2 separate regions of the Homo sapiens genome follow, and region 1 is linked to region 2. The links come from fine-mapping of genetic effects on gene expression. A gene starts in region 2. The other region holds a variant in brackets. All regions are shown on one strand. Distances are from middle to middle. Region 1 has its middle 23 kb from the start of F2R. Region 2 holds the start of F2R (coagulation factor II thrombin receptor).

What was found.
Region 1: its variant is fine-mapped to the expression of F2R in whole blood (TOPMed, PIP above 0.99).

What each region holds. Positions count from the first base shown.
Region 1 is chr5:76,736,313-76,741,688 of GRCh38, forward strand. No RefSeq gene overlaps it. Among named protein-coding and RNA genes, the nearest start is that of F2R, 23 kb to the left of the region's middle. RefSeq lists enhancers at 2,608-2,937, 3,038-3,107, 5,241-5,320. The variant C/A (reference allele first, on the strand shown) is at 2,495.
Region 2 is chr5:76,713,964-76,719,339 of GRCh38, forward strand. F2R (coagulation factor II thrombin receptor) reads left to right here and starts at 2,163. Exons shown (of 2, transcript NM_001992.5): 1 at 2,163-2,432. The coding sequence starts at 2,345. RefSeq lists a silencer at 1,969-2,218 and enhancers at 4,012-4,512, 4,513-5,013.

The DNA of each region.
Region 1 (5,376 bases), 22 kb after region 2:
AATGGCTGTGCTGTCTTCTCTGGCTGAATGACAGTCCTTTGCTGTCTAGCACTCCCTCAGGCAGAAGGGAGGAGGGGAAATTTAAAGCAAAATGACTAGTACTTCTCAAGGTTGAAAATAAAAAAATTTTTGATAAATTATTTCTAGAGTCATAGTCAATGAAAAAATTATTTCAACTAAACAAGGATTTTGTTAACATACAGAATTTTTATAAGTTAACACACAAGCTTTTTAAGTTTCTAAGGCCTGGACTTTTCACGTGTGTTTCAAGGAATAGATTGAGTTCAAAAAACCTTAAATTTTGCTAACACAAAAATTTTTTTTGTCCAGGCATGGTGGCTCACGCCTATAATGCCAACACTTTGGGAGACTGAGGCCAGAGGATCATTTCAGACCAGGAGGTTGAGACCAGCCTGAGCAACATAGTGAGACGCCATCTCAATTAAAAAATAAATAAATAATTAACCTGGCACGATGGCATGCCTGTGGTCCCAGCTACTCAGGAGGCTGAGGTGGGAGGATCGTCTGAGCCCAAGAGGTTGAGGCTGCAGCGAGCCATGATTGCACCACTGCAGTCCAGCCTGGGCAACAGAGTGAGACCATGTATCCAAAAAAAAAAAATGTTTTTTCCACCAAGCTAAAAATAGCATTTTTAAGGAAATGGAATGCTTGGCTATTGAATATACACTTGGAAAATTTTAGGTTATACTTCTGAATTTAAGAAATTTTAAAAACTGTTTGCCGTTGGCATGTCTTTGAGGAAGTTGAGCTACAGAAGCAAGTGGAAAAGGTTAAGCAGCATTGATGACCAAGCTATTTAAGTTTCTGGGGCCTGGACCATCCATTAGCAGCTTATCTTCAGCCAGGTGCTGTCGTGAAAATTAAGGGGAAAAACAGTTCACCAATGGTAATTTCCTGGCATAATTAGCCTGTTATGTGGCTATGCCTTTTGAAACTACTAGACCAAATGTGTGTGAAGAGTAATTGACCACAGGATAAACCTAATTGTGTTTTGTGAAGGAGGTGTGGTTAAGTGAGCTGCAATGTGAGAAGAGAGGAGAAATTCTCTAATGCAATTATTCTCAGAGTTCCTGAGACTCTCAGGAGATCTGCAAGGTCAAACTCTCTTCAAATACCAAGATATTATTTGCCTTTTTTGGTCTGTTTCTCTCATAAGTGGACAGATGAGTTTTCCAGAAGCTACACAACATGTGAAAGTGCAACAGATTGAATGCAGAAGCAGAGACGAAAATCTGACTGTCTCCTATTACACCAGTCATTAAAGAGATTGCAAAAATGTAAAACAATGCAACTCTCCTCCTTAAATTATTGTTTTGGGAAAAAATTTTGAAAAATATAGTATTTATTTTAACATGTAATGGGCTTATTGTCATTTTTAGCTGAAATAGATATTTTCAAAAGTTCTCCATTTTAATGTCTAATATGGAAAATATCAGTAGATAAAATCATTGGCAGCAGGGTGCAGTAGCTCACACCTGTAATACCAACACTTTGGGAGGCCAAGCCAGGCGGATCACGAGGCCAGGAGTTCGAGACCAGCCTGGGCAACATAGGTAAACCCCATCTCTACTAAAAATAAAAAACTTAGCTGGGTGTGGTGGTGCACATCTGTAATCCCAGCTACTTGGGAGGCTGAGGCACGAGAATCACTTGAGCCTGGGAGGCGAGGGTTACAGTGAGTCAAGATGGCATCACTGCACTCCAGCCTGGACGACAGAGCAGAGCAAGGCTGTCTCAAAAAATGAAAAAGAAAAAAAGTCAGTGATGTGCTGCTAAGCAGGATCTCCACAAAAAGAAAAAAAGCCTGATCTGGCAAACTAGCATTTGCCAATTTTGATGGTGTGAATACTCCCTTCTTTTCCAGTTTCAAGCTCCCAACTGTTTAACAGTTGGCTTGACAAATTTCCTGAATATTGAATTCTTGTGAGCAGGTACAAGTTGACTCCAGCACACCAATGGATGCAACCCACATAAACAAAGGCTCTTTGCTGGTCCTCAATAATTTTAAGTGTATTAAGGTGTTCTGAGCAAAAGAAGTTTGAAAACCACTGCCCTTATCCAAGATGTCCCAACTTTATTGACTTGAAGAAAACAGATAAACTGGTAATTATTATAAAAGCATAAAAGCAAACAGGGGTAAAGAGTTGGCTTAGAGCTGCAGGCACCACTCTGGGTTTCTGGCTGTTTCAGAGCTGAGGGGTTCCAAGTCTTGGAGCAAGAAACTGATTCAACATCCAGGCTCAGTGGCTCACGCCTATTATCCCAGCACTTTGGAAGGCTAAGGCGGATGAATGGTTTGAGCCCAGGAGTTCGAGACCAGCCTAGGCAAAATGGCAAAACCCCGTCTCTACGAAAAATACAAAAATTAGCCGAGCGTGATGGCTCATGCCTGTAGTTCCAGCTACTTGGGAGGCTAAGGTGGGAGGATGGCTTGAGCCTGGGAGGCGGAGGTTGCAATGAGCCAAGATGGTGC[C/A]ACTACACTTCAGCCTGGGTGACAGAGTGAGACCCTGTCACAAAAAGAAAAGAAAAGATACTGATTCACGTCATCAGGTATGGTGTGGTCCACAGAACAGGAAGCTCTGTGTGAGGTCTGATTTTCAGCCACCTGCTGTGTAAAGGAAAGAGAGAGGTGCTTGCTGAGCAAAGTTTCAGACCAGAAGACCAAGAGACAATTCAGAACAGCAGCAGATTCTACCCATGGTGGCATTCCTGTAAAGTGAAACTCAAGCGCCAAGTTTGTTGTCATGGGGACTGTTGATTGCATGCTAGTCTTATGGAAACACACGGAAAACCAGAGGTCAAATTCAGTAGCATCTCAGAATTCAGATAACACAGCATGTACAGTTTCAACCCAGCAGGCTGTGTGTTTATCACTTCAGGAAATGACTCATAAGCAGTAAGGAGATGAGCTTTGAAAGCTGCATCTGGCCAGGGCACGGTGGCTCACCGCTGTAATCCCAGCACTTTAGTGAGGCCGAGGCGGGTGGATCACCTGAGGTCGGGAGTTTGAGACCAGCCTGGCCAACATGTGAAACCCTGTCTCTACTAAAAATACAAAAATTAGCCAGATGTGGTGGCACACACCTGTAATCCCAGCTACTCAGGAGGCTGAGGCAGGAGAATTGCTTGAACCCAGGAGGCAGAGGTTGCAGTGAGCCGAGATTGTGCCATCCAGCCTGGATGACAAGAGCGAAACTCCATCTCAAAAAAAAAAAAAAGAAAAGAAAGCTGCATCTATAGTAGCCTGCATGGTGGCAGGGCCAGTCTGGCTGTTTTGCCTATCTTAATGACTACATCTGCAGGTCATTTTGGTGTGCTGCTATGCGACCCATCCAAGGAAGTGAAAACACCACGAAGGGTGGGCTGTCCAATACTGAGATGCATTCGTGAGCAAAACCATAATCATTTGATATCTATTTTTGTTGTTTTGTTTCCTATCCTGGGATATCTAGTTGCTCTTGAAACTAGCTGACACATATTTTAAAAAAAACAAGACAAATAATATATTCCCATCCTCCAGAAGCTAACTGGCTTTGGGATTTAATCCTAATACTTAATGTTTAGTTAGGAAGCACAAAATTTGAAGACCTCAGATTTAGAATTTTATCAGCTCTGCCTTGTAACAAGTTTTAGAAACTAAATCAGTTGGCCAGGCCTGGTGGCTCATGCCTGTAATCCTAGCTTTTTGGGAAGCCAAGGCGGGCGGATCACCTGAGGTCAGCAGTTCGAGACCAGGCTGGCCAACATGGTGAAACCCTGTCTCTACTAAAAATACAAAAATTAGTCAGACATGGTGGCACGTGCCTGTAATCCAGCTACCCGGGTGGCTGAGGCAGGAGAATTGCTGGAACCCGGGAGGCAGACGCTGCACTGAGCCGAGATGGCACCACTGCACTCCAGCCTGGGCAACAGAACGAGACTCTGTCTCAAAAAAAAAAAAAAAAGAAAAGAAAGAAAGAAAAGAAAAGAAACTAAATCAGTTCTCAACTCTGGTTGCGCATAGAATCACTGGAGAGCTTCTAAACAATTCCAGTGCCAATCTCTGGGGGCGAGGCCTGGACATTGATATTGTTTTCAAGCTCCTCAGAAGATTCTGATGTGTAAACCAGGGTTGATACTAAGAAAAGAAAAATCCCTCAGCAGTCTGAGCTATGTGAGGTGTGCAAAATTTATTAGGCCCAGAGAGACGGGAGTAGAGGACTTCAGTCACACCCCCGGCACATACCCTCCCCCTACCCACCACCCCCCATGCCTGTGGGCAATTATTTAAAGTCATTTTGTTCCTGGTGGTGTGGTAGCTCATGCCTGTCATCCCAACACTTTGGGAGGCCGAGGCGAGAGGATCCCTTGAGGTCAGGAGTTTGAGACCAGACTGGTCAACATGGTGGAACCCCTACACTCCTAAAAATACAAAAATTAGCCAGGCATGGCAGCATGCTCATGAAATCCCAGCTACTCGGGGGGCTGAGGCAGGAGAATTGTTTGAACCCAGGAGGCCAGAAGGTAGAGGTTGCAGTGAGTCAAGATGGCGCCACTCCAGCCTGGGCAACGGAGAGAGACTCCATCTCAAAAAAAAAAAAGGCATTTTGTTCCTGACTAGCTACATTCCCTGTTATCTTCATGTTCCTGGAATCTGTGATACAAAGAACAATGTGTATCCAATCAACAGCTTATGTTATTTTAATGTAAATTTTGATAAACAACTTAGGAACTGCCTCTTTTCCTTTATAAACATTCACATGCAACTGCTGCTAATCAGATTGTATATTCAGGACAACTTGAATATACACTTCAATATACACTGGGTTGCAGTCCTCAAGCTTGGCCCAAATAAACTCTCTACTTATATTAATTTTGACTCAGCTTCTTCCTTTTAGATCAACAATACCACTGTTTTTGAAAAGTGCTTCTTAGCTTATATACTGCTGGTGGGAATGTAAAGTATTAGTTCAGCCATTGTGGAAAGCAGTGTGGTGATTTCTCAAATAATTTAAAACAGAATTATCATTCAACCCAGCAGTCCCATTATTGGGTATATACCCAAAGGAATAGAAATCATTCTACCATAAAGACATCTGCGCACAGGTGTTCACTGCAGCACTATTCACAATAGCAAAGCTATGGAATCAACCTAAATGCCCACCAATGATAGACTGGATAAAGAAAATGTGGTACATATACCCCATGGAATACGATGCAGCCGTAAAAAAGAACAAGATCACGTTCTTTGCAGCAACATGGATAGAGCTGGAGGCCATTATCCTAAGCCAACTAATGCAGAAACAGAAAACCAAATACCACATGTTCTCACTTATAAGTGAAACTAAACATTGAGTACACATGGACACAAAGAGG
Region 2 (5,376 bases):
GAAACTCCGCCTCAGGAAAAAAAAGAAAGAAAGAAAATAAGAAAGACAGAGAGAGAGAGAGAGGAAGGAAGGAAGAGAGGAAGGAAGGAAGGAAGAGAGGGAGGGAGGAAGGAAGGAAGGAAGGAAGGAAGGAAGGAAGGAAGGAAGGAGGGGAAACTTAGTGGTCAGATGGCAACTAGGGGAGGGGAGGCAGAAGGTAATTTATTTTTCATTTCATATCCTTCAACTATCAGAAATTTTGTCATATGTGTTTATATTTTCCACTGTGTTTCATTGATTCTAAAATGCCTTTTCTTCATAACCCTGAAATTGGAGTGTTTCTTACAATCATTGGTATGTCACATTTTTTTCTGGCTTGTGGTAATGGGTTAAAATGATAAATTGTAAAATCAATGACGTCTTAGGAATAATGAAAAATAGTTTAATAGTGAATGAAGAACTATGTAATTTTAACTGTTCACATTTACTCTTGGGTATGTTTCCAGAGGATAACTGAACGGGGATAGATTTTAAAAAGCTTTATTTAACTGGGTACTTCCGCAATTTAGTGATCAACTTCTGTGTACAACAAGGTACTGTCCTTTGAGGATGATGGGAGAATACAGGGAAGAACGAAATCGCCTCTGATCGTACTTTCTCCACGGATGTAAGTGTCCGGGCTCTAGTGGGGGAATGATACTCTTCGTGCGAAATTCACTTTTAAAAAAGGCTTAGAAAACTGACCACCGGCTCTCAGCTGCAGCTTATCAACCACAGAACTCCGAATATGCCCGCACATCAGTGCGCTGGGTTAAGAGGAGAAGGGGCTGCGGCTGAGCTTTCCTAGAAACAGCTATTTGGGGACCCATTTCCTGTTGGAGTCTGAAAGGCGCACGCACCAGAGCCAGTGGCAAAGCAACTTAAGCTGCAGGCTCCTCCTGCCCACCCCCAGCCGCGACGCCCCTGGGGGCCCTTAGCAGACTGCCAAGCGAGTGTCCCCGCCCTGTGCCTTGAATTTAGCCAAACTCCTTTAATATCAGGCCTGGCGCGGTGATTCACGCCTGTAATCCCCGCACTTTAGGAGGCTGAGGCAGGAGGATCGCTTGAGGCCAGCAGTGAAATTAGCCGGACATGGTGGCGCGCGCCTTTCTGTGGTCCCAGGTAATCCGGAGGCTGGGGCGAAAGGGTGGCCTGAGCCAGGGAGATCGAGGCTGCAGTGAGCCGTGTTGGCGCCACTGCACTCCAGCCTGGGCGACAGGGCAAGACCCTGCCTCAAAAACAAAACAAACTGTAATATCGTTCAAGAACGTGTGAAGGACACTTGGAAAGTTACCAGGCCATTTCTCTCCTGGGCGCCCGCGGCCCTAGAACGCCGGCCTCACCGGCAGACGCGCGCCCTCCTCCCAGATGCGCAGGTGACCCCGGCGGGCGGCGCGGGAAAGGGAAGAGCTCCGCGAGGCCGCGCGGGGGGGAAGCGGGAGAAGCCGCTCTTCCTATTCCACTCGCAGTCTGCGTGTGGGGGAAACGAGTGCCCGGCGTATGAAACGCCTAACTTCGCGAAATAAAGAGAGACGTATAAAAGTTCAAGAATTCTGTCCAGACTCAAGGGCCCTTTCTCATTTAGGGGCAACCCTGTCACTACATCATAAACTTTTAAATCCGTGATCCCCACGTTACAAAAGCAGAAGTCCCTTTTAGACTTTTAGCGAAAACTGAACTTTGCCGGTGTCCCACACGGAGGGAGGGAGGACGGGAGGCCACGCCAGGGCTGCGGGGCTGCAGGGCGTGGACGCATCCTGGCCGGGGCGTCCACTGTCGACGTCTCCACATCCCAGGAGGGTCGAGACGGCCGCGGGAAGCAGCCTGCGAGCCGTGCGGCCCCATTCCAAGGACCCCGCCAGTGTGAGTCACTGACAGCTTCGCGAATCAACGGTGCCCAGAGGAAAAAACTTCTCATTTGGACTTCTAGGCCCGGCAGTGGCCGGCGGCCAGGGCCCCCCAGTAGGGCAGGGCGGGGCGGGGCGGGGCGCACAGAGCCAGAGGGGCTTGCGAGCGGCGGCTGAGGGACCGCGGGGAGGGGGCGCCGAGCGGCTCCAGCGCAGAGACTCTCACTGCACGCCGGAGGGCGCCCTTCCTCGCTCGCGCCCGCGCGACCGCGCGCCCCAGTCCCGCCCCGCCCCGCTAACCGCCCCAGACACAGCGCTCGCCGAGGGTCGCTTGGACCCTGATCTTACCCGTGGGCACCCTGCGCTCTGCCTGCCGCGAAGACCGGCTCCCCGACCCGCAGAAGTCAGGAGAGAGGGTGAAGCGGAGCAGCCCGAGGCGGGGCAGCCTCCCGGAGCAGCGCCGCGCAGAGCCCGGGACAATGGGGCCGCGGCGGCTGCTGCTGGTGGCCGCCTGCTTCAGTCTGTGCGGCCCGCTGTTGTCTGCCCGCACCCGGGCCCGCAGGCCAGGTGAGAGATGCACGGGAATGGGGTGCGCGGGCGGAGGGACGCCGAGGGGAGACTGCGGGGGTCACTGTTGCGCCTTCTCCTCACCCCTGCCTCAGTTTCCTCCGAAAGCCAAACTGGCATTTGGGCTGAGATCTGGAGTTTTTTCCAGTCACGTTTAGGTGGGGCGTGCCACCCCCTTCGCGGGCCCAGCCGATGCCCCTTTGGACTCGATCTTGGAGGGTGCAGCCCGCCTGCCACGGGGTGTTGGATATGGAGGAGGATGGAGCGGAAGCCCCCTGGGGGAGCCTGCAGTCCTGCGTTGCACTTGTCATTGTGTTTCTCCCAGGACCACCCCCAAAAAGAAAAGCTCTCACGTTGCTCCACCAATAAACGTTTCGATCTTTAAAATATAAAGTGGCGAACCGCTGCCGCTGAAGTTTTGCTTTGTTGGAAGTTTTTTTCTTGCACATTTTACAGGCGAGAAAAGTGATGTAGAGAAAAGCCCAGGCAGTCCCTTGGCATGTTTAGCAGAGAATCAGTACCAGCAGCCCCCGGCCCGGCCTTGTGTCCAGGAGGTGCGCAGGGTGCGAGATATATGGTGACAATAGCAGAGGCTCCGCGTGGTGGCGGGGGAGGGGACATGGAGAGGATTTTGTTGTTACCTAGAACCCATTCCTTCTAAGTGAGTTGAAGAGAGAGATCCCTCCCCAGGACCGGGCTCCCTCGAACACTGTGGGATCCCAGTATTTCTTAACGAGATTTCTGATCCACTGCAAGAAGGTTGCTCCCCTAGAATATTTTCCCCACTAGTAGTCTATTTTTAAGTATCTGGCCACTTGACCAAATAAATAAATTTGATTAATTTATTTGGTCAAATATTTTCTGTATCCCTTTCCCCAAGAGCAGCACAGATGAGTTGTTTTTAGCCTGTAAAGGCGCTAATTAGAAAGTGAGAAAAGTGTTTTTGAATTTCCTAATAACAATAGTATTTTATAAGCTTTGAGCCATTTTTTTTACGCTGAAAGAAGTTCTAGCGGGTTTTCTTGTTATCGCTAAAAGAATGTGCACTCTATATTGCTCCCACACTCAAAAAAAAGTGTAGACACATCAAGATTAAGAGGTGACAAAGACATAGCATGTTCTCGCCTCTCTGTCTTTGTTCAGGGTGAGTTTTGAGATGCTTTTGGGAAAACTAAGAGCTCCAGACTGGGGCCCAGTGTTTAGCAGTAACTAGCCTGCCTGCAGATAAGTGAGCATTGTTGCCGAAAGTGTTTGAGAGAACACCGAGAACTCCTGAAAAATTGTTTGCGATGAGATATGATTTCACATACCATTATGTAATTTGCACAATGTAGTTTGAGGACACGCTCTTGAGAATCCAGTGTTTTGTTTGAGATTTGGATCATGGGGTGGAGAACAGAGCTTATAGAAATGCTGCACCCTTTCTCACAGTGGCCTCCCAGCAAGGTGTGTAGCCTCATTAGGGAGTGAAGTCAAAGCGTACTGGTTTCTGCCAAGCTTCTTACATCCTCATGGCAGGAGTGGTGCATGTTAATATGGACAGTGCTGGTGTAGACAGAAAGGCAGGTGGATGAACTTGGCTAGTTTATCAACACTGGATTCTGGAACCACTTTGGGAGGGAAAGAAGAAAGGAGTATGATAGAGGAAAAGGAGCGCTTGCTAAGTGCCATATTCCATGTCAAGCCCTGGGCCAGAAGGAATTTTCACTTGGATTGTCTCATTTCACCTTGTCAAAACACCTTGTTAAGGTGGGTATTTATCCCCTTTTGCTGATTCTGCAACTAAGACCCAGAGACAGCGGCTAAGCAAGTGGTGGCGGGTGGGGCAGGGAAGGGGCAGTCCACCCACCCTGGGTGCAAGCAATTAGGAATAAGTGGGGCTTTGTCTTTAGAAAATTTAAAATCACTAATAAAATCAACCCAAGATAGGTTTACTTTCTATTACCACCATGCATTGACAATTCTAAGCATTGTCTGTCATAAGGTAGTGGTGCTGGGACTCTGAGGCATCCAACAGTGCCTCCCATCCTTGAACCGCCACCGCTGTGATAGAGTTTATTGTCCAGGATTACCAGCTCTGTGTGCCAAGAGGGGCGGTGAAGCCCTCCCAGGGCTGGCCCTGACCACCAAGCTGAGCCTTCCTCCAGCACTTCCCGACTTTTTGTTCCCACTCATTTTGGCATTTCCTGCCTTGTCACTTTGTGTGTGTGTCTCATTCTCCCAACTAAGATTATAAAGTTTTATTTATCCCCATGGTGACTAAAACAAATGTTCACTCAGCAGATAGTTGTTGAGAAATGTGTAAATTCATCAACCAGTTTACATTCGTCTAGACAATTTAAGTGAGATGATATGTGATCATTAAAAGGGCCAACATCCAAGAGTAAAAGGTGATGTTTATAAATTTTATGGGGCTCTAGAGGGTTAAAGTGTTCAAGAATAGCTGGTGGTGACTATGACAGAGAGAACTTGGTGGGCAATTCCACTTGCTACCCTCCTACTCACAGAGTCAAGCCCAATTCTCTGGCATGGAATGAAGTGCTCCTCCCCTTGCAGGAGGGTCCCCAGCCCCTCTCCAGCCATCTCCTATTACTCACCCTCCAGTTCACCCAGCCCCATCCTCTAGATCCTCCCTTCAAGGAGCTATGCTTTCTCTGGCTTCTGTCCGCATGCCACTCCCTCTGGCCAGAATGCCCTCCCCATATCCCATACCCGCCACGTTCATGTTTAATTAAAAACAGCTACCCTCTGTGGAGTACTGACTACAGCTGACATCCTTCTTAGGGACGTTACAATACTATCTTATTTATTTCTCACAACAGCCCTTTGAGTAGATGTCATCCTCATTTTACTGGTTATAAAACAGAGACCCAGAATGGTTAAGTCACAAGTTGAGAAAGAGGTGGAATTGGGACTGGGTGCGGTGGCTCATGCCTGTAATCCC